Homo sapiens: one gene and its partners. The protein of the gene in region 5 purifies or fractionates together with the protein of the main gene of each other region. This does not show direct contact. Each region holds a gene or a part of one and is shown on either strand. Other genes may lie near its edges.

Evidence for each region.
Region 1: the proteins of CDK8 (region 5) and MED4 purify together in Homo sapiens (affinity purification with mass spectrometry; 11 studies listed by BioGRID and IntAct, with this or other methods). This does not show direct contact.
Region 2: the proteins of CDK8 (region 5) and MED20 purify together in Homo sapiens (affinity purification with mass spectrometry; 10 studies listed by BioGRID and IntAct, with this or other methods). This does not show direct contact.
Region 3: the proteins of CDK8 (region 5) and MED16 purify together in Homo sapiens (affinity purification with mass spectrometry; 12 studies listed by BioGRID and IntAct, with this or other methods). This does not show direct contact.
Region 4: the proteins of CDK8 (region 5) and MED21 purify together in Homo sapiens (affinity purification with mass spectrometry; 15 studies listed by BioGRID and IntAct, with this or other methods). This does not show direct contact.
Region 6: the proteins of CDK8 (region 5) and MED18 purify together in Homo sapiens (affinity purification with mass spectrometry; 6 studies listed by BioGRID and IntAct, with this or other methods). This does not show direct contact.
Region 7: the proteins of CDK8 (region 5) and MED1 purify together in Homo sapiens (affinity purification with mass spectrometry; 16 studies listed by BioGRID and IntAct, with this or other methods). This does not show direct contact.

What each region holds. Positions count from the first base shown.
Region 1 is NC_000013.11:48,088,605-48,092,104, reverse strand, and holds part of MED4 (mediator of RNA polymerase II transcription subunit 4), read left to right. Parts: intron 1-1,686; coding exon 1,687-1,753; intron 1,754-3,500. UniProt on the Homo sapiens protein: Component of the Mediator complex, a coactivator involved in the regulated transcription of nearly all RNA polymerase II-dependent genes.
Region 2 is NC_000006.12:41,918,340-41,922,498, reverse strand, and holds the start of MED20 (mediator of RNA polymerase II transcription subunit 20), read left to right. Parts: upstream 1-1,359; 5' UTR 1,360-1,480; coding exon 1,481-1,494; intron 1,495-1,555; exon of another isoform or gene 1,556-1,699; intron 1,700-4,159. Other genes in the region: BYSL (bystin), read right to left, coding at 669-936. UniProt on the Homo sapiens protein: Component of the Mediator complex, a coactivator involved in the regulated transcription of nearly all RNA polymerase II-dependent genes.
Region 3 is NC_000019.10:869,188-872,687, reverse strand, and holds part of MED16 (mediator of RNA polymerase II transcription subunit 16), read left to right. Parts: intron 1-569; coding exon 570-762; intron 763-1,434; coding exon 1,435-1,651; intron 1,652-3,500. UniProt on the Homo sapiens protein: Component of the Mediator complex, a coactivator involved in the regulated transcription of nearly all RNA polymerase II-dependent genes.
Region 4 is NC_000012.12:27,025,558-27,028,365, forward strand, and holds part of MED21 (mediator of RNA polymerase II transcription subunit 21), read left to right. Parts: intron 1-862; coding exon 863-977; intron 978-1,789; coding exon 1,790-1,890; intron 1,891-2,727; coding exon 2,728-2,808. UniProt on the Homo sapiens protein: Component of the Mediator complex, a coactivator involved in the regulated transcription of nearly all RNA polymerase II-dependent genes.
Region 5 is NC_000013.11:26,351,629-26,355,128, forward strand, and holds part of CDK8 (cyclin-dependent kinase 8), read left to right. Parts: intron 1-2,111; coding exon 2,112-2,252; intron 2,253-3,500.
Region 6 is NC_000001.11:28,332,040-28,334,252, reverse strand, and holds part of MED18 (mediator of RNA polymerase II transcription subunit 18), read right to left. Parts: intron 1-2,213. UniProt on the Homo sapiens protein: Component of the Mediator complex, a coactivator involved in the regulated transcription of nearly all RNA polymerase II-dependent genes.
Region 7 is NC_000017.11:39,441,264-39,444,763, reverse strand, and holds part of MED1 (mediator of RNA polymerase II transcription subunit 1), read left to right. Parts: intron 1-1,135; coding exon 1,136-1,214; intron 1,215-3,500. UniProt on the Homo sapiens protein: Component of the Mediator complex, a coactivator involved in the regulated transcription of nearly all RNA polymerase II-dependent genes.

The DNA of each region.
Region 1 (3,500 bases), about 22 Mb from region 5:
AGAATGAAACACTAATCTTTACCATAACTATAAGGCCCTACGTAATCTCACCCCTAGCCACCTGGCTGCTACATCCTCACTTTGCTTTCCTCTCCCCATTGTGCCAGGCCCTGGCTACACCTCCTCAGCTCCATCTTTGGGGCACTGAACTGTCTGTGTCTTCTACTGTGCTCTTTCCTTCCAGACATCTTGGCTGACTTCTCTCATTTAATCCGTGTCTTATGTCAAAGCTGTGCCCTTAGGAAGACCTTCTCTGACCACCCTATTGAAGTAGCCAACCCACTCCCCCAGTAGTCTCTAATAAAACATTGCTTTATTTCCTTCCCAACCCTTATCACTCTAGGTTTATTTCTTCTCTTAGTTCTTCTTGTCTCTTGTATTAGAATTTAAGTGCCATTGTTCACTTTGATACCCCAAGTATCTAGAAAGTGCCTGGCACATGATAGGCACTCAATAAATATTTGATGAATTAGTGAATAAATGAAGACTTTGCATTCTTATATCTACTTTTTTCATTCATTGATTAATTCATAAATAATGGTATGGGGAAGTAGTAGTGGGAAGGGTTGGGTCTAATTGACATGATCCAGAAAAATGATATGATGCTAGCTGGAAGGAAGGTGGAAATTTGAAGGTAAAAATAGCCTGGTAGCCAGTGAGAAAGTACAAATGCTCAGGCTGATCAGAGCAGTGTCAGGTAGCTAGTTGTGAAGCTGCCCCTTCTGCATAATTTCTCAAAAGTCCCATCTATCAACAAGTTTGAAACTAATATATAAACATTACCTGCTATACATTTTTCCCAATCTTATTTTGCTCATCAGATACTAATTTTCATACAGGGAAATTGTCATATTTATTAAATGAGCATTCTAAAAGGATATCATTTTATTATGTGTAAGGATCCCTCTTAGTTGATGTTTAATTTAAAAAATTCAAATAAAGTGGAGAATCATTAAAAAATGGTCCATGCATCCCTTAATTGTTTTATTTTACCTTAAAATATATAAACATATGTTCATTCACTAATCATGTTATGTAAGACAGGAGTCAGAAAACTTTTTCTGCAAAGGCCAGATAATAAATACTTTTGGGTTTATGGGCCATATAGTCTCTGCTGTAACAACTCAACTCTGCCTCTGTATTTAGGGAAAACTGCCATAGACAATTTGTATATTAATGGGCAGACTGTCTTAGGAAAATGTTATTTACAAAAACTGCAGAAGTGCTGGATTTGGCCTGTAGACCCCTGATGTATGAGTTTTTCTTGCATAAATCGCTCATAATGCATTGTCTGCAATTTGTAGTTTGATTTCTAGATCAAATCAAAATGAGAACTTATCCTCTTATCAAGCAGTCTTAGGGCAGACCCTTAGTTTTTATGACTTTTCCCTGGTCCTTTCTTTATAGCTGTCCTTTGCAAGCCTCTGTAGAGTCTTTCCAAGCATTAGGCTTAGGTTTTTATAGAAAGAACTCTCTCTATTCACAATAGTCTTTCATTGGCATTTAGGTGATAGCTATTTATATAATGATAGTATTAAGTAGAACTTTTATAAATAAGTTTGGTAACCGGCACAAGCGAGTCTTGGTGAGCTGTAGTTCACAGTCAATAGCGGACTGTAGGGAGTAGCCCTGAGTGTTCAGTATGCTGTGAAAGGGTTTTTGTTGTTGTTGGTTTTTTTTTTTTAGGGAACTTATAGAAATGCTGGCAATTTCAAGAAACCAAAAGTTGTTACAGGCTGGAGAGGAAAACCAGGTAAGTGGCTTCTTTTTAAATTAGTTAATTTCTCTTTGTTTTTTAATTAAAAGAAAAAAACTTGATTTCTGCAAGTTTCCTCTTTATATTTACTTTGTGTGGGAACAGGAATGTTGGATCCTTTTAAGTTATTAATTAAAACTTTAATATTGGTATTTTCTTTGTATCATTTACTTAAGATAACAGTGCGCTTAAGAAGAATAGTTGCCTGAGGGTTTAGCAGTATTTTGTTATTTTCTCTTACAATTCTAGTCACACTTACATGTTTATTTATTTTTGTCCTTTGAATTAACCAAGAAAGGCTTGTTGTATGGAGATTACAACAATATTTAGAATCAAAAGTTAATGCTCAAAAACTTACCGTGTATTGTAAGTATAGTTCCCTAATGCAACTTGAACATGCAGGGAAATAAAAGAGCATACAACTCTTATTAGACATTGCCTTATAGGGGTGAAAGTACGGGCAGTTTTTATTTGCTCACTTTTCGGTGCTTTCTAATTTTCCATGGTGGGTGAACAGACTTTTTTTCCTGATTCAGAATTTTTTTAGAGGTAAGAGGATAAATTTTATATTATGTTTTTGGCACAGTTTTTTCTTTTTTGAGACAAGTTCTCGCTCTGTAGCCCAGGCTAGAGTGCAGTGGCATGATGACTGCTCACTGCAGCCTCAACCTGCTGGACTGAAGCGATCTCCCACTTATCCTCACCAGTATCTGGGACTATAGGCATGCGCTATAATGCCTTGCTAATTTAAAAGAAATTTTTTTTTTTGGTAGAGACATAGTCTCACTGTGTAGCCCAGGTCAGTCTTGAACTGTCTTGAACTCCTGTCCTCAAGGGATCCTCCCCACCTTGGCCTACCAAAGTGCTGGGACTATAGGCATGAGCCACCATAGCTGGCCAAAAAAAATGTTTAAGAGAAAATGAATGGAGAGGATTAACCTTTCTAAAGATGATGTAAAGGAGAAGAGGAGACAGTAATAAATCTTTTGTCTGCATCATTACCTTAGTTCTGTCTTACGTTTTGAGGGCAGGGAAATCTGACGGACTCAATAGAAAAGTGTCAGTGAGCCTCAAAAGGGGAGGAGGGGATCCAGATGAGGCCACAAGCTAGGAGAAACAGCTAACCTTAGGGGTAGTAAGGTTTTTGTTTTGTTTTTTTTCAAAAAAGAAAGAGGCTAGAGATAAATATGTTAATAGAAGACTACTAGTCTCTCAGGTACTCTGTTAATACCCGTGGGATTAAATAGGAATTTATACAAAGTATGCAAGAAGTAAAATGCAAGGCTTGACTTTATTTGATAGACACTTATTAAATGCTTGCTATGAGCCAGGCACACAGATTATTCAGAAGGTGATAATTAAGACCTATAATCAGCACTGATCTTTCTTGCACTTTTTAAAGAGTAGCAATTTGTGAATTGTGTCTTAGTACTGTGGATTCCTATGTAATTTTCATTGAAACTGTTACTATTAGAGAGGGATGTGCCCATTTGAAAATTTTCTAGCCACCATTTTATTTGGATATTTATAATTTTATATAGAATTTTAGAATTAGAAAGGATCTTAACGATGTTCAGTTCAACCTCCTGTGAGAATAAGCTCCAGGGTGGACGGATGAGGTAGAGGTTAATGGTGAGTGGAACCAGAACCTAGGTCTTCTGACTTTAGTTGAATAATTTTTTTCTACTGAACAATAAGATCTAAAGAGAATATTTTTTACTCATGGGTAGTATACAAATTAATT
Region 2 (4,159 bases), on a different chromosome or scaffold from region 5:
TCAAATATTGCTTTAGATGAGATCTGAGAAACGGATGAAGCACCTCAGAGGTCAACACTCCCTCCCTAGTGAGAAAACATCAGACGTCTTTCAATTCATCTCTCTCGCTCTTTGGCTGCTAAACAATGTGTTTTCTGCTCATAACACTTCCCATTCGTTTTTCAGTTCTCAGCTTAAAGGTCCTGCTGCAATCGGAGAAGCTTCTCAAGACCAATGCTATTGTTACCAGGGAAACGATACTTTATCATGGAAATATATTATTCTAAGAGTCTACTTAATTGCCTCTCTGCTGGGCTTGACTGTAAGGTCCTTAAGTTAGACGTGCCTGTGTTGTTTACTTCTGTACCCAAACATTCGATAGAATTCCGAGCATAGCGCAAAGCTCGTAGTGGGTATCCCATAAATATTTACAAAACCAATGGATACATGCTAGGAGCACTTAGTGGCGCGATCGATTACTGTTGGCCTAACTTCGGGGGTGTCTAGAAGGGAGTGCCTAAAACTAGGAGTGGACGCGGAGGGCTCTAGACAGGGTTCAGTCTCCTTTGCAAGTGTAATACGGACCCCTTTGTTGACTCGAAGCAATTCCCCTGCCAGACACTTTTTAGCTGCCCACCCCGCCCCACTACTGGCCACTGTCTTCCTCGGACCTCATCCCAGACACTCACCCAGCCGCGTGGTGCGTTCCCGCGGCGCCGCGGGCTTGTCCCCAGTCCCATGCTCGGCCTCGAGTTCCTCCTGTTGCTGCCGTGCTTGCTGCAAAATCCGTCGGCTCAGCCGGGGCCCCACATACTCTTCCTCCGCTTCTCCTGTCCCGCGACCCCGCCGCTTCTCCCGGACCCCCGCCCGCACCGCATTCCCAGCCAGGATCTGATCGGCCAGGGGCGCATGTTTTTCCTGACCCCCCACCCCACGGGCCGCCTTGAATTTGGGCATTTTTCTCGAAAAAGTTGCCGGGAAGGATCGCACGTGGGGACTGAAGAAAGGCCAGGATGCGCTTGCGCGGTGGACTCCCAGCGCCCAAGAGGCCGCCCGGCGATCACAGCGCCCCCTAGCATTCGGAGGCCAGAAGCGCCATCAGCGCCGCCCCTCCCACTAAAAGAGCTCCCGGGTTCCGGAGCTGGACTCCCGAATATATTCACTGCCTTTAACGTTAGCTTCTCTCAATAGTGCAGTCTTTGAGTGTCGCTCTCCTAGCTTCATGGATGTAGGCCTAGAGTGCTCAGCCAAACGGGAATGTCTGGATTTAGAAACCTCGGGGCGGGAATCCGCAGATGATGTCAGTGGAGGCGTCACCGAGGGGTGCCGAGACACGCCCCATTCCTTGGGGAAGGCGTGGACCCGGCGCTCTGTTTTTACGTATTTCCGGAGTCCCTTCTGAGACAGAAGGTTGTGTTGGGGAACTGAAGGAGTTTCTGTGGGCGGACAGGGAACCCTGCGTTTCTACTGTGTGATTCTGCCACCTTCCTGGCCCGACGCCATGGGAGTGACTTGGTAGGACTGCAGGGGGTTTTGTGGGGCGGGGCTTGGAGTTGTGAAAGGCCGGAAAGAGGACCTTGACCATGGTCCGCCGTCCTCTGGGAGCTGAGGGAGATGTCCTCGGGTTGTGTAGATGAGAGGATGCCGTCCGGGCTGCGGGTTCCCCGGGCTTGTTTCCTCAGAGATGCGCCCCTTCCTCTTGGAAGGCGGGAAAGCAAAGGTTTTTTTTTTGTTTTGTTTTGTTTTTTTTAAGACGGGGTCTCGCTCTGTCGCCAGACTGGAGTGCAGTGGAGCGATCTTGGCTCACTGCAACACTCCGCCTCTTGGGTTCAAGCGATTCTCCTGTAGTCCCGAGTAGCTGGGACTACAGGCGCCCGCCACCACGCCCGGTTACTTTTTGTATTTTTAGTAGAAATGGGGTTTCACCATATTGGCCACGCTGGTGTCGACAAAGCAAACTTTTTATCCCAGGAACCTATCAATGGTTGTATACCTCATTCTCTTCTGGATACATCTTCCTTCCCGTGAGGCCATAGTACTGCCTGCAGTGGGACCTCAGGGTTGGAAATAGGGTCTTTGGACTATGACCCACCTGCAGACAGGGTTGGAGGGAGTGGGCCATAAGCAATCAGGAGATAGTATTTTTTAAGATTTTCGCCTGCTCTTCCCTCAGCCATCAAATACAGTTAGACCCGCTTGTGTCTGTTTCTAATTTGCTCATTTTAAGATCTTGGGTCTAGAGGAAAAAAGGGTATTGATAATAAGGAGATCATGGTTCCAGGCACTTTATCTCTTTAGGACCCGTTTCCCACTATGTTTAATTCCATGGTTGGTCTAGTTTCAATGGAGTTTTTATCTTTCATATGTTTTAAGTCTCAGTTGAAAGAAGATGAGGTGGCAGGGAAAGGTATGGGTCCAGTGCTCGTGGAGGCGTTAGTTGTAAGGTGCCAGGTCCCAGAACATTTTTTTCTTATCTCAGTAGATGTGAGCATTTTTCCCGTGGGAGAAATCCGGAGGCCAGGATATTTGAAGCCAGTGGATATAGGCTTCTCATACAAAAGCATGTGTAGGGGAAATACTTTTCCTCCTGGTAGCCCAGGTTCTTGCAGGTTTCTCAGTGATTGCACTCTTGCTTCCTACGATTGACACGATCCTCCTGTGTTCCTTAATGGAAGCAAGATATGTGAGGAATGGAAATGGAAAGGATGCAGCGTAGAACCCTGGAACCCTTGCTCTTTCTTTTTTTTAAAGAAATAGAAATGGGGTCTTGCTGTTTTGTACATGCAGGTCTTGAATTCCTGAACTCAAGCGAGCCTCCTGCTTTGGTCTCCCAAAGTATTGGCATTATAGACATGAGCCACCGTGCCCAGCCACCCCTGCTCTTTAAATGGAGAAGGCAGCTCCAGGGAAAGGGCTCTCTGTTGGCCCCCTTATCAACGTTTTCAGAATCCTAGGACTTCTGTCACTTGTAGCGTCAGTTTAGGGATTCTTTTGTATTTCAAAATAAGGCACATTAGCAACATCGTTTATCAGTGTTTTTTTCTGATAGAGTAGTGACAATTTTTAGCAACAGAAGGACTCTACCTTAATAGATTCATTTAGTTGATCATAAAGCAATGTCATCTATGACTGTTTTCTTGATTTCTATATAGCTAAGTACTGCTTGTACTATTGTTTATTAATTTTTTAATCGATTTTCCTTAATGTTTTAACAGGCACTACATCCTTATACAGGCAGTCTAGTTAGTGGTTAAGAGCATGGACATCAAGCCAGGTTGCTGGGCTTTGAGTCTTGAGTGTACCACCCATTAACTGTGTGACCTAGTGCAAGTTATTTAACCTCTTTGTGCTGTACTTAAGTTTCCTCTTTTTTTTTTTTTTTTTTTTTTTTGAGGCAGAGTCTCACTCTGTTGCCCAGGCTGGAGTGCAGTGGCGTGATCTCGGCTCACTGCAAGCTCCGCCTCCCGGGTTCATGCCATTCTCCTGCCTCAGCCTCCCGAGTAGCTGGGACTACAGGCGCCCACCACCATGCCTGGCTAATTTTTTTGTATTTTTTTTTTTTTTTTGAGACGGAGTCTCGCTCTGTCGCCCAGGCCGGACTGCGGACTGCAGTGGCGCAATCTCGGCTCACTGCAAGCTCCGCTTCCCGGGTTCACGCCATTCTCCTGCCTCAGCCTCCCGAGTAGCTGGGACTACAGGCGCCCGCCACCGCGCCCGGCTAATTTTTTGTATTTTTAGTAGAGACGGGGTTTCACCTTGTTAGCCAGGATGGTCTCGATCTCCTGACCTCATGATCCACCCGCCTCGGCCTCCCAAAGTGCTGGGATTACAGGCGTGAGCCACCGCGCCCGGCCATTTTTTTGTATTTTTGGTAGAGACGGGGTTTCACCGTGTTAGCCAGGATGGTCTTGATCTCCTGACCTCGTGATCTGCCCGCCTTGGCCTCCCAAAGTGCTGGGATTACAGGCGTGAGCCACCGTGCCTGGCCAAGTTTCGTCTTTTTTTTTTTCTTTTTGAGATGGAGTTTCGCTCTTGTTGTCCAGGCTGGAGGGCAGTGGTGCGATCTTGGCTCACTGCAACCTCCGCCTCCTGGTTTCAAGTGATTCTCCTGCCTCAGCCTCCCATGTAGCTGGGATTACAGGCGCACACCACCATGCCTGGCTAAGTTTTGTATTTTTGG
Region 3 (3,500 bases), on a different chromosome or scaffold from region 5:
CCTGACCAGGGCTCCAACCTCGCCCCCACCCCCCCGCCGGTACACTCTGTCCTGCCCCAGCTGTGATTTCTTCTGCCCCACCCACCCGGCTTCATCCTGCCCTGGGGCCCGCCCTTCTCCACCGCGCCCATCACGGACGGTTTGAAGTCCCTCTCTTCTTTTTGTGGGGCTTTAGGCTGCCAGGGGCCACCCCTGGGGCCTCCCTTCCCTGGTCCTCTCAGCTCCCAGTACAGTCACCAGGGGCCCGGGCCCGCAGCTGTAGGAGGGGGCGGCTGCTCCTCCACGTGCAGGTGGGGATATTGGCCTCAGCCAGAGCCTCGTCTTAGTCTTGTGGACTCTCAGGGATGGGACGACTCTGCAAATGGGGCTGTCCTGGGCCCTGCAGGGCTCTGAGCAGCGTCCCCGGCATCCACCCACTCGGTGCCAGAAGCACCCCAGTCCTGACCACCACAAATGTCCCAGACCCTGCCCATTGCCCCCCGGTCGGGGTTCCACCGACCCCAAGACACTTCATCCCATCGCCATCTGCCCCCCGCCGCCCCAGCCACACCGATGCCTCTTTCGGGCAGGGTTCCCTGCTGAGGCCGGGCCACAGCTTTCTGCGGGACGGCACCTCGCTGGGCATGCTTCGGGAATTGATGGTGGTCATCCGCATCTGGGGCCTTCTGAAGCCCAGCTGCCTGCCCGTGTATACGGCCACCTCGGATACCCAGGACAGCATGTCCCTGCTCTTCCGCCTGCTCACCAAGCTCTGGATCTGCTGTGAGGCACCCCCGCCCGCCCCTCCCCTCTCCCCGCTCCCCGCTCTCCCCTCTCCCCGCTCCCCGCTCCCCGCTCTCCCCTCTCCCCGCTCTCCCCTCTCCCCGCTCTCCCCTCTCCCCGCTCTCCCTTCTCCCCGCTCTCCCCTCTCCCCTCTCCCCGCTCCCCTCTCCCTACCAAAACACAAGTCCTGCCTGAGCCCCCCGCCAGAACATAAGCCCCTGCAGGTGGCAGTGGCTCTGCCTTGATATCTGCTATTTCCCCAGTTCCTAGCACAGGTCCATGCTCTGTGTGGGTGCTTTTGGGATGGCAGCCACTTCCAGGCACCTGTTTGCTGTCTCTCCTTGTCGGGTTGTGTGTATGTGAGGAGGGTGAGCTGTGTCATTCTTACATCCCAGTGTCTGGAAAAGGCACAGTGCTTCCCACATACTTTTTAAGTGAATGAGGGAGTCTCATGACAGGCCAGAGACGGGGAGAGAACTCTGGGGTCACCCAGCCAGGCAGGCAGAGCCGGGGCCCCGACCTGGTGAGAGAACCCCGGGGTCACCCAGCCAGGCAGACAGAGCTGGGGCCCTGACCTGGTGCTCCTGAACTGGAGGGGCTCCCAGCACGTCCCGGGTGGCCGGGCGGTGCCCCAGTCAGGGGTGCTGAGACTTCCGCCACCTCTCTCCGCAGGTCGCGATGAGGGCCCAGCGAGCGAGCCGGACGAGGCGCTGGTGGATGAATGCTGCCTGCTGCCCAGCCAGCTGCTTATCCCCAGCCTGGACTGGCTGCCAGCCAGCGACGGCCTGGTTAGCCGCCTGCAGCCCAAGCAGCCCCTTCGTCTGCAGTTTGGCCGGGCGCCCACGCTGCCTGGCAGTGCTGCCACCCTGCAGCTCGACGGCCTCGCCAGGTGCGTGTGTCCCTGCATTGGTCCCCAAACACAGGACTCCTTCCTCCGTGTCCTGCCCCGGGACCCCCGAATCCACACGGCTCCCTCCCTGCATGTCCTGCCCCAGGTCCCCCCGAATCCACACGGCTCCCCGCCTCCATGTCCTGCCCGGGACCCCCCGAATCCACACGGCTCCCTCCCTCCATGTCCTGCCCCGGGACCCCCCGAATCCACACGGCTCCCTCCCTCCATGTCCTGCCCCGGGTCCCCCCGAATCCACACGGCTCCCTCCCTCCATGTCCTGCCCCAGGACCCCCCCGAATCCATACGGCTCCTTCCCTCCATGTTCTCCAGTCATGGCCATGACTGCTGCTTCCTTCTAGGTGCCCCTAACTCCATCCCCTAGTGGTGTCTTCTGCTGTGTCACGAACCACCCCCAACACGGGCACCCAGCCCTTCCATTCACCCTCTCCCTTTTTTTTTTTTTTTTTGTCTCCCCGACAGGGTCTCACTCTGTTGCCCAGGCTGGAGTGCAGTAGTGCCGTCTTGGCCCACTGCAACGTCTGCCTCTCGGGTTCAAATGATTCTCCTACCTCAGCCTTCCCAGTAGCTGGGATTACAGGCATGAGCCACCACACCTAGGTATTTTTTGTATTTTTGGTATAGAGGCGGTTTTGCAATGTTGGCCAGGCTGGTCTTGAACTCCTGACCTCAGGTGATCCACCTGCCTCGCCCTCCCAAAGTGCTGGGATTACAGGTGTGAGCCACCGCCCCGGCCTTGCCTTGGTGTTTCCTGATTGTGTGTTGGCCTCGCTGTACAGGGCGCCCTGCCTTAGCCTCTGCCCTTAGTCTCTGGCCCCCCTGGATGTCAGGCCTCGCCGTAGATCCCTCTGTGGATGGAGAGAGACGCCTTAGCATATGGCCCAGGGCCCTGCTGAGCAGACACCTCATCAGGAGGATCTCCCGGGGGCAAGAGGTCACCTTGCAGGGCCCGGGGCTGGCCTTTCTCTGGAATGTGCGGGGTTTGGGCAACCCAAGTGTGCTGAGCTGACCCTGGCTGCCCAGCAGCCCTGTGAGGTGGGACCTTGTCACCCCATTTCACGGTGAGGAAACCCAGCCTGGAAAGGGTGGGACCTTGTCACCCCACTCATCTGGGGTCACGCGGTCAGGAAGTGGCCGAGTCAGGATTTGAACCCAGGCCCGTCAGACCCCCAGCCTGTTTCAGACACACGTTTGACAAGGAGCACATGCAAACCCTCTGAGCCACTGATTGCTCAGGGCTGGAATTTTAGAAAACACAGATGAGCAAAAGGAAGAAAATGAAGTGAACCTCCAGCAGCCCTGCTCCGGGGAAGGCCCCGGCTCGGCTCCAGGACCTCCAGGGAAGGCACCCCCGGCTTGGCTCCGGGACCTCCGGGAAGGCGCCCTGGCTTGGCTCTAGGACCTCCAGCATTTTCTTCCTCGTGCTCACTGTGGGAGGGGCCTCCTAATGAGTCACACACGAGGGTTTGGGTTTCAGGAAAAGACTTGATGGAAAGAGAGGACGGTTACGTCAGAGGCTTGTAAACTGGGAAAATTTCAGATATTTAATGAGAGCAGAATAAGCCGGCCCACCCCCACCCAGACCCAGGTCCCCCACCCACCACCGAGGGCAGCTTTTGCCACCAGAATCTTGTCGTTCAGAGGTCCCGGCACCTCCAGGCCGGGTGTCTGGGCAGAGGTGGTGTGGAAGTCCCCATGTACCTGCTTCTGTCCAGCCTCAAATGGGAGCGTCACAAGCACCTTCCCTGCACCTCAGGCTCCCCGGGCACGTGGCGGACCGACCCTCGTCCCTGTGTGGGCCCCGTCCCCTTTACTGGGTCTCTAAGCC
Region 4 (2,808 bases), on a different chromosome or scaffold from region 5:
AGAGAAAGATTTGTAGTATTAGCAGAATATGAAGATCAAAGGAAAGTAAGAATCTGAAGTTAGATTGGTTGACTAGGAGACTTTCAATACAAATTAAATATTAAAAAGAGGAAACAGTTGCCTTTGAGTTCTGTCATTGAAACAATGGCAGAGAAACCCAGTGGAAATACTTATTAGAAATAGGAGGTTTGAGAGGTCAAGACTAGGTGAGAGAAATTGGTAGGGAAGATAGGTGTATTTAATTTGGAGATGGTAAGGAATTGCTATTCCCAATCTTTAAAAGTACTTAAGGAATACTTTTAGAGTACAAGAGTTTACAAATTGAGTCTTGAACAAATACATTTCTGCTTACTTAAGGTGCTTTTCTGAGCAGCCTCTTCCTCACTATTTCTTTACACTTGTAACTACTCCAGTCTCAGAAAAGGAATCATATACTTTGTGCATGAGAAATAAATTTTTATTAAACATGGTGCCATAGATATTTACAAGTCAAATTTGCTCTTTTCCATCACTATCCCCAAAAAGTCTTTACTTGTGGCTTACAATAAGTATTGGCCAATATTCTCTTATCATTTTACTATCACAAGAAAAGAAAGATTATTTTGTATTTCAACTGTTTCAACTAGATTTATATCAAATTTAACTTTACCTAGATTGATACCAAACTTAGTTTCTTTGCAGAATTAAAACGTTTAATCAACATTAATAATAACTGGCTTATTTTATCAACAATCACTCCTTTCTGTTTTATTCCCTTGCTCAGAGATTATCATTACAGAAACTTATTGTTGTTGCCATTACCAATAAAGTCCTTAAAACTGATAAGTCCTTTCTAACCTTGATATGTTTTCTTTGGCCTAAGCTTGCAGATCAGTTTTGTAATGCCATTGGAGTATTGCAGCAATGTGGTCCTCCTGCCTCTTTCAATAATATTCAGACAGCAATTAACAAAGACCAGCCAGCTAACCCTACAGAAGGTAAACAGGTTTTCTTAGCTTCTCTTAGTTTGACTCTCACATTTTTTGTAATCCTTTAAAATTAGATTTCTTGAGAAATTCAGCTTATTTTATTTCTAAAATTATTGTTGTTTGAGAATATTACAAGTTTTGTTTGTTGTAAAAAATTTACAGTCAATTCACCTAACATCTCATAATTCTGGTTCATGTCAGATAATAGATTGTTACTCCTTTAGAGGAGAATTTGTATTAATTTAGCTGAGTGAGGGACCTTAACAAGGAAGGCATCCCATTTATAAATTTCTTTATTCAGGTGACCACTATATTGTCATAATAAATGAAATTACATACATTATGCTTAATTCCCAATTTGAGCTAAATGTGTAACAGGATTGGTGTATATTTTAATCATTAGAATCTTCTTTTTTTTTTTGAGACGGAGTCTCGCTCTGTCACCTAGGCTGGAGTGCAGTGATGCAATCTTGGCTCACTGCAACTTTCGCCTCCCGGGTTCAAGGAATTCTCCTGCCTCAGCCTCCTGAGTAGCTGGGATTACAGGCTCATGCCACCACGTCTGGCTAATTTTTGTATTTTTAGTAGAGATGGGGTTTCACCATGTTGGTCAGGCTGGTCTCAAACTCCTGACCTCGTGATCCGCCTGCCTTGGCCTCCCAAAGTGCTGGGATTACAGGCGTGAGCCACCACGCCTGGCCGAATCATTAGAATCTTAGGGCAGAAAAAGCTATATGAAGTTTCTGGTTTCATTAACTTAAAATTTGTTTCTGAAAACTTGAGGTTTTCTAATATCCTAATCTAGCAGTATCTTTCTCTAGAGTATGCCCAGCTTTTTGCAGCACTGATTGCACGAACAGCAAAAGACATTGATGTTTTGATAGATTCCTTACCCAGTGAAGAATCTACAGCTGCTTTACAGGTAAGCCTCTATTCCTTTGAGAATTTTACCAGTAATAGAGAATTTTGAATTAAAGGAGGTAGATTTAGTACCTTTTGTCTGTGTCCATTTGTGCTGCTATAACAACATACCTGAGACAGTAATTTATAAAGAACAGAAATTTATTTTCTCACAGTTCTGGAGTCTGGGAAGTCCAAGATCAAGGCATTTATTACTCACTGTGCATGAGTAATGAATTTTTATTAAACATGGTGCCATGTTTAGGGCCATGTTGAGGGCCTTCTTCCTGTTTCCTCACATGGCTGAAGGCAGAAGGGCAAAAGAGCAAGAGCTCCCTCTTCAACCTCAAGCCATATTTTAAGGGTACTAATTCCATCTATGAGATCTCTGCCTTCATGACTTAATATCCTCTTAAAGGCCCCTTCCCTCTTAATACCATCACATTGGGGATTAGATTTTAATGTATGAATTTTGGAGGGGATGCATTCAAATCATAGCACCTTTTGTTATAATATTCAAATTTCCATTATAAGGAAACCTCTTATTTTCCTCAATTTTGTCTCTTTTCCTAGTGAAGAATGAGAGGAGGGTGGCATTCTACAATTGGAGTAGAATAATGGTGTCTAAACGTAATGTGTAAGGGAGTCACTTAAAGATATCTAGAGATCTCTAATTGAAAAGTCATTCTTTTTAATAATTCACATGGGGAAAATTCTTAAAAGTTGTCTGATTTTTAGAATTTCTTTACTGAAAAACATATCACAATGATTGCAAAGTCATCCAGATTTAAAAATAAGTACATCTGTGACAGCTTCTCTTTCTAAACTCTAAAGATTTTAAAATTTGTGTCTTATAAAGGCTGCTAGCTTGTATAAGCTAGAAGAAGAAAACCATGAAGCTGCTACATGTCTGGAGGATGTTGTTTATCGAGGAGACATG
Region 5 (3,500 bases):
ATTATACTTCAGCAAATTTTATTGTGGGTAATATTGTACAGTGCATATAACTAGTTCATTAGCTTTATCATCATCTTAATAATATTTAAGCCAAATAAATATTTTTAATGTTCATTTTCATAAAAAACAAATGATAATTTAGCCTACTAAAACCCACTCCTTTATCTATTTTAATTGGAATGTTGAAGTGAATTGGTAGGGGTTAGGCAGCAGAGGGTAACAAGGCAGTCGCAATAAAAATAGTTATTTTTAAAAATCACTTAGGCGTTGGTGAGATTTCATGGTATGTATATTTTGCATTTGTTATGTAGCCCTGGAATATAAAGAAAATGACAGTAGGATTTGTCATTTTAAAACATTGGTAAAAAAAGTCACTTGTAATACTCTAATGAAAGTGTACATGAAGAAATATATATGAAATTGATTAATTACCTTACCTCTCCTACATATTTGTTCCTTTGATTCTTACTGCGGCAGAGTTTTAATTTTTTTTTTTTCAAAAAATTAACCTATTTTATTTTTATTTATATTTATTTTACCTGTTTTTATTAAGCTTGGAGAGAGCCAAAGAATCTTCTTCTTGTTTTTTTTGTTTGTTTGTTTTTGAGATGGAGTCTCGCTCTGTCGCCCAGGCTGGAGAGCGGTGGCAGGATCTCCACTCACTGCAAGCTCCGCCTTCCAGGTTCACGCCATTCTCCTACCTCAGCCTCCCGAGTAGCTGGGACTACAGGTGCCTGCCACCACTCCCGGCTAATTTTTTGTATTTTTTAGTAGAGACGGGGTTTCACCGTGTTAGCCAGGATGGTCTTGATCTCCTGACCTCGTGATCCACCCGCCTCAGCCTCCCAAAGTTCTGGGATTACAGGCGTGAGCCACCATGCCCGGCCCAAGAATCTTCTTCTTAAGGAGAACAGACTTGATTGTCACATCATATTTTAGGACAGGTGACAAAACAGCCTAGATTATTAAATTGTTGTAGCTCTGTTTTGTTTGCCTGCTATTAAATACTTTGAAAAAAAGACTGAGAAGAAAATTAAAGTAGATTAATGCTGCTAATTTAGATTAGTCATACTACATATGTGCAAACTGCTACACTTTACCTTCTCGTAGATATTTGCTATATATTTTTACCTTGGAGAGTAAAGCTCCTTTATTCATTAATCATTAGTTATTCCTTACTTGTGTCATATTCTGTATATCATAAGAAAATAGCAAGTGAAAATGTTAACTTATAATGTTAAATATCTCTTATTTTTATTATGTCTACTAATTTCAAGAACATGCTTAATATTTACTTACATGTATTGGCCAAGGGTCTGCTCTGTGCAATATTAGGTTCAGGGATATGTACAGTGGTGTGCAAGGCATAGTTTACTGCAGCCGAGTTATAGATTTTCCTGCAATTTAAGAGTGATCTAATTAAGAAAATGAGTCCTATCAAGAGCATTTGAAACTTTTCAAGAAAAAACTTGTAAGGCACATTTATTCATAAAGTAATTTTTCTATGTATAAAGTTGTGCTTTGTTTTACTGGATGTCTAACAACATTATACATAGAAAGCTTTGATGGATGGTACAAGGCAGTTTTTATTTTCCTCAGAATCTTTCCCATTTTTACATTTTTCCATTGTGAACTGGTATATCATTTCTTTGTGCTTGTGTGTATTTTATTGAAGCATCTCCCCACTTGCTTTCTTTATAACCTGTGTCATAAATAGGTTCTAATTCTATGCTATGTCAACCAGCCAGAAGTATCTCTTGAATTTTGTTCTTTTTTTTTTTTCATTTTATCTACCAGATAAACAGGAATCAAGTATACTCTGAAAGTAATTGATTTTTAATTATGCTTTAAAAATAAAAGCACAATATTTTCTGATTCCCTATTGTGATAATTTATCTCCTGAAATGCTGTCATATGGGTAGGAAATGGAATTTTAGCCCCAGTTATTAGGGAATTTTAAAGTTGTTTATGTTATTCAGCAGAGTACGAAATTATATTTTCAATATCTATGGGAATCCCTGAGTGTTTCTTTTTCTGTTAGGAAAATATTATACATCAAATTATCTTTTCCTTTTTTTAAGCTTCTGTTGATATTTTTTTCTTTCTTTCAGCATATAATCAAGTTTCACAGAGCTTCTAAAGCAAACAAGAAGCCAGTTCAGTTACCTCGGGGAATGGTGAAGTCACTATTATATCAGATCCTAGATGGTATTCACTACCTGCATGCTAACTGGGTGTTGCACAGAGATTTGGTAAGTTGACCTGTAATTGGTTTAAACTAGAAAGATGCATTACAGTTGGATACTTTTCTAGTCGTCTGTAGATACCAGTGCTATATGTAGGCCTGCAAACCTTATAGAAGTAGTGAGAATGCTACCTTCTCAAAACATGGCCTAGTAGTGTTTTTATATAATGCCTCCTGCTTCTCTGACATACACTAGATGGTATTTATTTCAAAGTGAAAGAAGAGACATTTGTGTTCCTAAGCTTCTGTTTCCTTTTAAGTTCATAAATAAAGCATTGGCTTGCTTTAAATTGATTATTAGATACAAGGCCAACTGTAGAAATTTATATATTTATAATAACTTGAAAATAAAATTTTGGGAGCCTACTGCATACTAATTTACATATTAGAAAAGGAAAATGTTAATTCAATATGCTTATATTTTAAGCCCCTCTATATTAGCAGTCTGTTGGCCAATCACCTTTATTAATCATAATTGAAGTATATTATTAGAAGCCTTGCTGTGTTCAGGTGCATTGAACTTTTGAGAATTTAAAAACTTAAGAAACTGACTTTTTAATTTTACGTTGCAAAGTCATTTATGCCTTTTTTCACCCATCTTGCACAGGGGTCCCCAACCCCCAGGCCACAGACCAGTCCATGGCTCATTAGGGACCAGGCCACACAGCAGGAGGTGAGCGGTGGGTGAGCATTACCACCTGAGCTCCGCCTCCTGTCAGATCAGTGGCAGCATTAGATTCTCATAGGAGCCAGAACCCTATTGTGAACTGCACATGCGGGGGATCTAGATTGCACGCTCCTTATGAGAATCTAGCTAATGCCTTATGATCTGAGGTGGTACAGTTTCATACTGAAACCATCCCCTCCCACCCCGCTCCGTGGAAAAACTTCTTCCATGAAACTGGTCCCTGATGCCAAAAAGGTTGGGGACTGCTGGTCTAGCATATTATTATTCATTAAATTTTCATGGATTTAAATTACCTAAACTTCAAATTGCCCTTTCTTACTACATAATTACATTGCTTTTATAGTTCTTTTCTTTGTAAAGATAGTAACTATATAATAAGGTTTATAAAGGCACCTTCATTTCAAACAAATATAAACACAATGCTAAAAGTGATTATTTTGTCTCTAATCACCTGTATACAAAGGAAATATCCTGTAGGCTATGAGGCGGAGCCCATCTGGTCTCTCGCAAAGATGTTCTTCACAAATTTAGTGGATTTAGTCTCTGGCCTTCAATGTGCTGTTCCAG
Region 6 (2,213 bases), on a different chromosome or scaffold from region 5:
TGTATAACGTTGTGAGAAAGTTATTTTCCTTTTCAATTTTTTTGGAATTTTCTTATTTAGCACTACAAAGTCTTTAGGCCTCTTCTAATGCTCATCTCCAGCAGGCCTGGGGCTTAGAGCCTTTAATCAGCGACAGTGTCTATCTAGAATGTAATAATACTGTTTTAGTTATGTATTTATTTATTTTTGTAGAGTTGGGGTCTTACTATGTTGCCCAGGGTGGTCTTGAACTCCTGGCCTTGGTCTCCCAAAGTGTTGGGATTACAGGCACAAGCCACCATGCCCAGCCAATAACACTATTTTGTTGTTATATATTTTAACAATTGCCTTCTATTTCCAACAAATCAAAGTCTTCCATTTATAGAAGAAATATAAAGTCTCCCCCGCTTTTTTTGAGACGGAGTCTAGCTCTGTCTTCAGGCTGGAGTGCAGTGGTGCGATCTCAGCTCACTGCAACCTCCACCTCCTGGGTTCAAGCGATTCTCCTGCCTCAGCCTCCTGAGTAACTGGGACTACAGGCGTGTGCCACCACGCCCAGCTAATTGTTGTATTTTTAGTAGAGACAGGGTTTCACCATGTTGGCCAGGATGGTCTCGATCTCTTGACCTCGTGATCCGCCTGCCTCAGCCTCCCAAAGTGCTGAGATTACAGGCATGGAGCCACTGCACCTGGCTAAAGTTTCCTTTTTATCAGGAAAAGTTTTCCTCTTCTGTATGTAAGTAGAAGAGAGTGAATTGCTTCATAGAATCTTCATCCTCTTGGCAACATCTGACATAATTGTTACAGTAGATTATACCCACTATGAAATCTATTCTTCCCTTGGCCTCTGAGACACAACTTTCTTGTCTTCACTTAACTTGCTGACCATTCCGTTTAAGTCTTCTTTGCTTGGTCTCTCTCATCTTCCCCAAACACTGGAGGACTAGGACTCAATCCTGGTCCTCTTCTGTATCAATACTCTTTTCCTGCCTAGGTGACTTTATTTGGTCCCATGGCTTTAAATATCATTTAGGCCCTGAGGACTCCCACGTTTTTATCTCTGAACTACAGATGAAAACATCCAACTTCCTACTCAGTTTCCTCACTTGGATGCCTAACAGACATCTTTATCTTAACATGTTCAATATCAAACTGTTGATTTTTTCCTCCAAAATCTTATTCACCCTACAGTCTTCAACATCACAGTAAATGGCAACTCTCTGTTTTTAGTTGGTTACCCAGGCCAAAAACCAGAAAATCATCTTTGACTCACACCCTCTTTCTTTCTCTCATACCCTCCATTGAATCCGTATTTTTGAAATAAATGCAGAATGCAATCACTTCTCACTCATCTGGTCACTTCAACCTAGTCCCTTCAAATGAAGTCACCCTCATTTCTTGCCTGGTCTTTGCAATCGCCTCTTTCTACCTTTGCCTTCTTCCTCTCTTCTCCATATGAAAGCCAAATGGTCTATTAAATTATTGGGCAGATAATAACACTCCTCTACTCAGGACACTACAGTGGCTTCCTGTGTCATTCAGAATAAAAGCCAACATCTTTACCGTTGTCAACAAGGCCCTACATATTATGGTCTCTGCTACCTGCCAAACATCATCTCCTTCTATTCCTCCCCTTGATCATTCTCTCCAGGAGTGACCTTCCTGCCACACCCCTTCTCCTATTCTCTGTGCTTAGGATGTTCTTCCCATCTGCATGTCTACTCTATCACTTTTGTCAGGTCTCTGCTCAAGTGACTTTATCATCAAGGCCTTTTCTGATCACCCTAATAAAATAGTATGTGTCCTACCAATCTCTAGCCACTTTCCTGCTTTATTTTTATGGCATAGTTTTGTTTTTTTTTTTTAGGTAGGGTCTCACTCTGTCTCCAGGCTATAGAGCAGTGGCGTGATTATAACTCTTTGCAGCCTCCATCCCCTGGGCTCAAGTGATCCTCCCGCCTCAGCCTCCCAAGTGGTTCAGACTACAGGTGCGCACCACCATGCCCAGCTAATTTTTTTTTTTAGTAGAGATGAGTTCTTGCTATGTTGTCCAGACTAATCCTGAATTCCCGAACTCAAGCAGTACTGCAGCCTTAGCCTCCCAAACAACTGGAATTACAGGCATAAGCCTGTAACAGCTGGCTTGACATACATTTTTTTAGTCATCTTTCTGCCTCCATGGCTATGGCTCAAATGTTAGGAACATATTCAGATACTTGTTTACAAAATCTGGC
Region 7 (3,500 bases), on a different chromosome or scaffold from region 5:
CTGAGTAGCTGGGACTACAGGCGCGTACCACCACACCTGGCTAATTTTTGTATTTTTAGTAGAGATGGGGTTTCACTATGTTGGCCAGGCTGGTCTCGAACTCCTGACCTCATGATCTGCTCGCCTTGGCCTCCCAAAGTGCTGGGATTACAGGCGTGAGCCACTGCAACCGGCCTCAAACTAGGCTAAGTTTTTGTTCTTTGGAAGTCCCTTTTCTGGACTACATGTTCTGTTTCTTTTCTTTTTCTTTTTTTTTTTGAGACAGAGTCTCTCTCTGTCGCCAGGCTGGAGTGCAGTGGTGTGATCTCGGCTCACTGCAACCTCCGCCTCCTGGGTTCAAGTGATTCTCCTGCCTCAGCCTGCTGAGTAGCTGGGACTATAGGCGTGCACCACCACGCCCAGATAATTTTTGTATTTTTAGTAGAGACGGGGTTTCACCATTTTGGCCAGGATGGTCTCAGTCTCTTGACCTCGTGATCCACCCGCCTTGACCTCCCAAAGTGCTGGGATTACAGGTGTGAGCCACCGCACCCAGCCTATATGTTCTGTTTTTTAGAGTCAATCTCATTTTCTTAAAATTTGGTTGTGTTTCTCAGATTACATGCAAATCACCTTGTTAAATTTGTACACTACCAAATCTCCTGAGCCATCTTATTTAACTGTTTATATCTTAGCATGTGGTCACTTCCACAGGCGGCAGATCTCATGTATTACATTTTGATTCTTCCTAATATTTCTCTAAAGGTTTTTTTGTTTTAGATGTGGAAATACAACGTTTTCTTTTTTGTTTTTGACTAAATAGAAACAGGATCTCTCTATCTTGCCTTGGCTGGTCTCGAACTCCTGGACTCAAGTGATTATTCAGCTTTGGCCTCTCAGTGTGCTAGAATTACAGGCATGAGCCACGTGCCTGGCTGAGGAATACCTTTTTCTACACTCATATATATGGATTTTGCATGGATGGACAGAGTAACACTTGTAGACCAGTGTTACTCTATATAGTCTACAAAATCTATAGACTATATTGAGTCTATAGACTGTCCTGCAATATTACTACTAGGATAATGTGTATGTTTACCTAAAACACTGTTGGCCTGGTTAATTTTCACCTCAAATGTTTTCCCACTTGACACAGGAGAAGAGGGTTGTGATGAGTTCTGGAGGGCATCAACATTTGGTCAGCTGTTTGGAGACATTGCAGAAGGCTCTCAAAGGTTTGTGAACACTTTTGAAATATGCTGATTTCACAAAACCCCCAGTTCAAGAAGGACCATTTTATACTTAAACTAGAAGTAAAAAATTGAGGTAGGTCAACTTTATGTATTAGATATTGCTCTTGCATTCATTTATGGAGTTGGAATGATCTTTTTGCTAAAGTTTGAAACATTTATTTTTGATCCTGTTTTGGAGGCTGATAGAGATTTAAAAGATAAATGATGAAGGGTAATATAAGATACCTGGGGAGGCTGGGTGCGGTGGCTCGCTCCTGTAATCCCAGCACTTTGGGAGGCTGAGGTGGGCGGATCACAAGGTCAGGAGTTTGAGACCAGCCTGGCCAACATGGTGAAACCCTGTCTCTACTAAAAATACAAAAATTAGCTGGACGTGGTGGCGGGCACCTATAATCCCAGCTTCTCGGGAGGCTGAGGCAGGAGAACAGTGTGACCTGGGGAGGCGGAGGTTGCAGTGAGCCAAAATCACGCCATTACACTCCAGCCTGGGCAACAGGGCAAGACTTGTCTCAAAAAAAAAAAAAAAAAAAAAAAAGATACCTGGGAAAAGTTTTTTTTCCCTTCACATTTATTTCTGATTAATCTCGATAAGAAGATGGACTTTTTTTTTTTTTTTTTTTTTTTTTGAGATGGAGTTTCACTCTTGTTGCTCTGGCTGGAGTGCAGTGGTGGAATCTCGGCTCACCACAACCTCTGCCTCCTGGGTTCAAGCGATTCTCCTGCCTCAGCCTCCCAAGTAGCTGGGATTACAGGCATGTGCCACCATGCCCGGGTAATTTTATATTTTTAGTAGAGACAGGGTTTTCCATGTTGGTCAGGCTGGTCTCGATCTCTTGACCTCAGGTGATCTGCCCACCTTGGCCTCCCAAAGTTCTGGGATCACAGGCGCGAGCCACAGCAACTCGCGAAGTTTTTTTTTTTTTTTTTTTTTTTCCGAGACGGTGTCTCACTCTGTCACCCAGGCTGGAGTGCAGTGGCACAATCTTGGCTCACTGCAACCTCCACCTCCTGGGTTCAAGCGATTCTCCTGGCTCAGCCTCCCAAGCAGCTGGGACTACAGGCGCGTCCCACCACGCCTGGCTAATGTTTTGTATTTTTAGTAGAGATGGGGTTTCACCGTGTTAGCCAGGATAGTATAGATCTCCTGACCTCGTGATCCACCCGCCTCGGCCTCCCAAATTGCTGGGATTACAGGCGTGAGCTACCATGCCTGTCCAGAAGATGGACATTTTAACTCTAAAAAGATTTTTACGGTGTTTATGGAGCAAATTTCCAGGAAAGCAAATGTAAAATATAAGTCATGAGCTTGATTATTCATGCTTATAATGACTAATTCTATTTTTGGGGAATAATGAAAGTAAAAACAGATTTTACTGTGATCCACCAGAAATGAACCTAATTCAGCTGAGGGTTTTTTTTTTTTTTTCTGGAGACAGTGTCTCACTCTGTCGTCCAGGCTGGAGTGCAGTGGCACGATCTCTGCTCACTGCAACCTCCGTTTCCCGGATTCAAGTGATTGTTCTGCCTCAGCCTCCTGAGTAACTGGGATTACAGGCGCCCATTACCATGCTCAGCTAATTTTTGGATTTTTAGTAGAGATGGGGTTTCACCATGTTGGCCAGGGTGGTCTTGGACTCCTGACCTCAGGTGATCTGCCTGCCTTGGCCTCCCAAAGTGTTGGGATTACAGGCGTGAGCCACTTTGCCCAGTCTCAGCTGAGTATTATCTTCTTTACCTTTTTTTGTTTTCTTTTTCTTTGAGACAGAGTGTCGCTGTGTCACCCAGGCTGGAGTGCAGTGGCACGATCTCTGCTCACTGCAACCACTGCGCCCCCACCGGGTTCAAGAGATTCTCTTGCCTCAGCCTCCCGAGAGGGTGGGATTATAGGCGCGCACCACCACACCTGGCTAATTTTTGTATTTTTATTAGAGACAGGGTTTCACCACGTTGGTCAGGCTGGTCTTGAACCCCTGACCTTGTGATCCGCATGCCTCGGTCTCCGAAAGTGTTAGGATTACAGGCGTCAGCCACCGCACGAGGCCTTTTTTTCTGTTTTAATTGTGGTAAAATATAGGTAACAAAATTTACCATTTTCTTTGTTTCTAAGTGTATAGTTCAGTAGCGTTAAGTACATTCATATTATTGTATAATCATCACCACTGTCCATCTGTAAAACTTCACTCATCTTCCCAAGCTTACATTCTGTAATGTCCCATTCCCGCCTTCCCCCAGTCCCTGGCAGCCACCATTCTGCTTCCTGTCTTTATG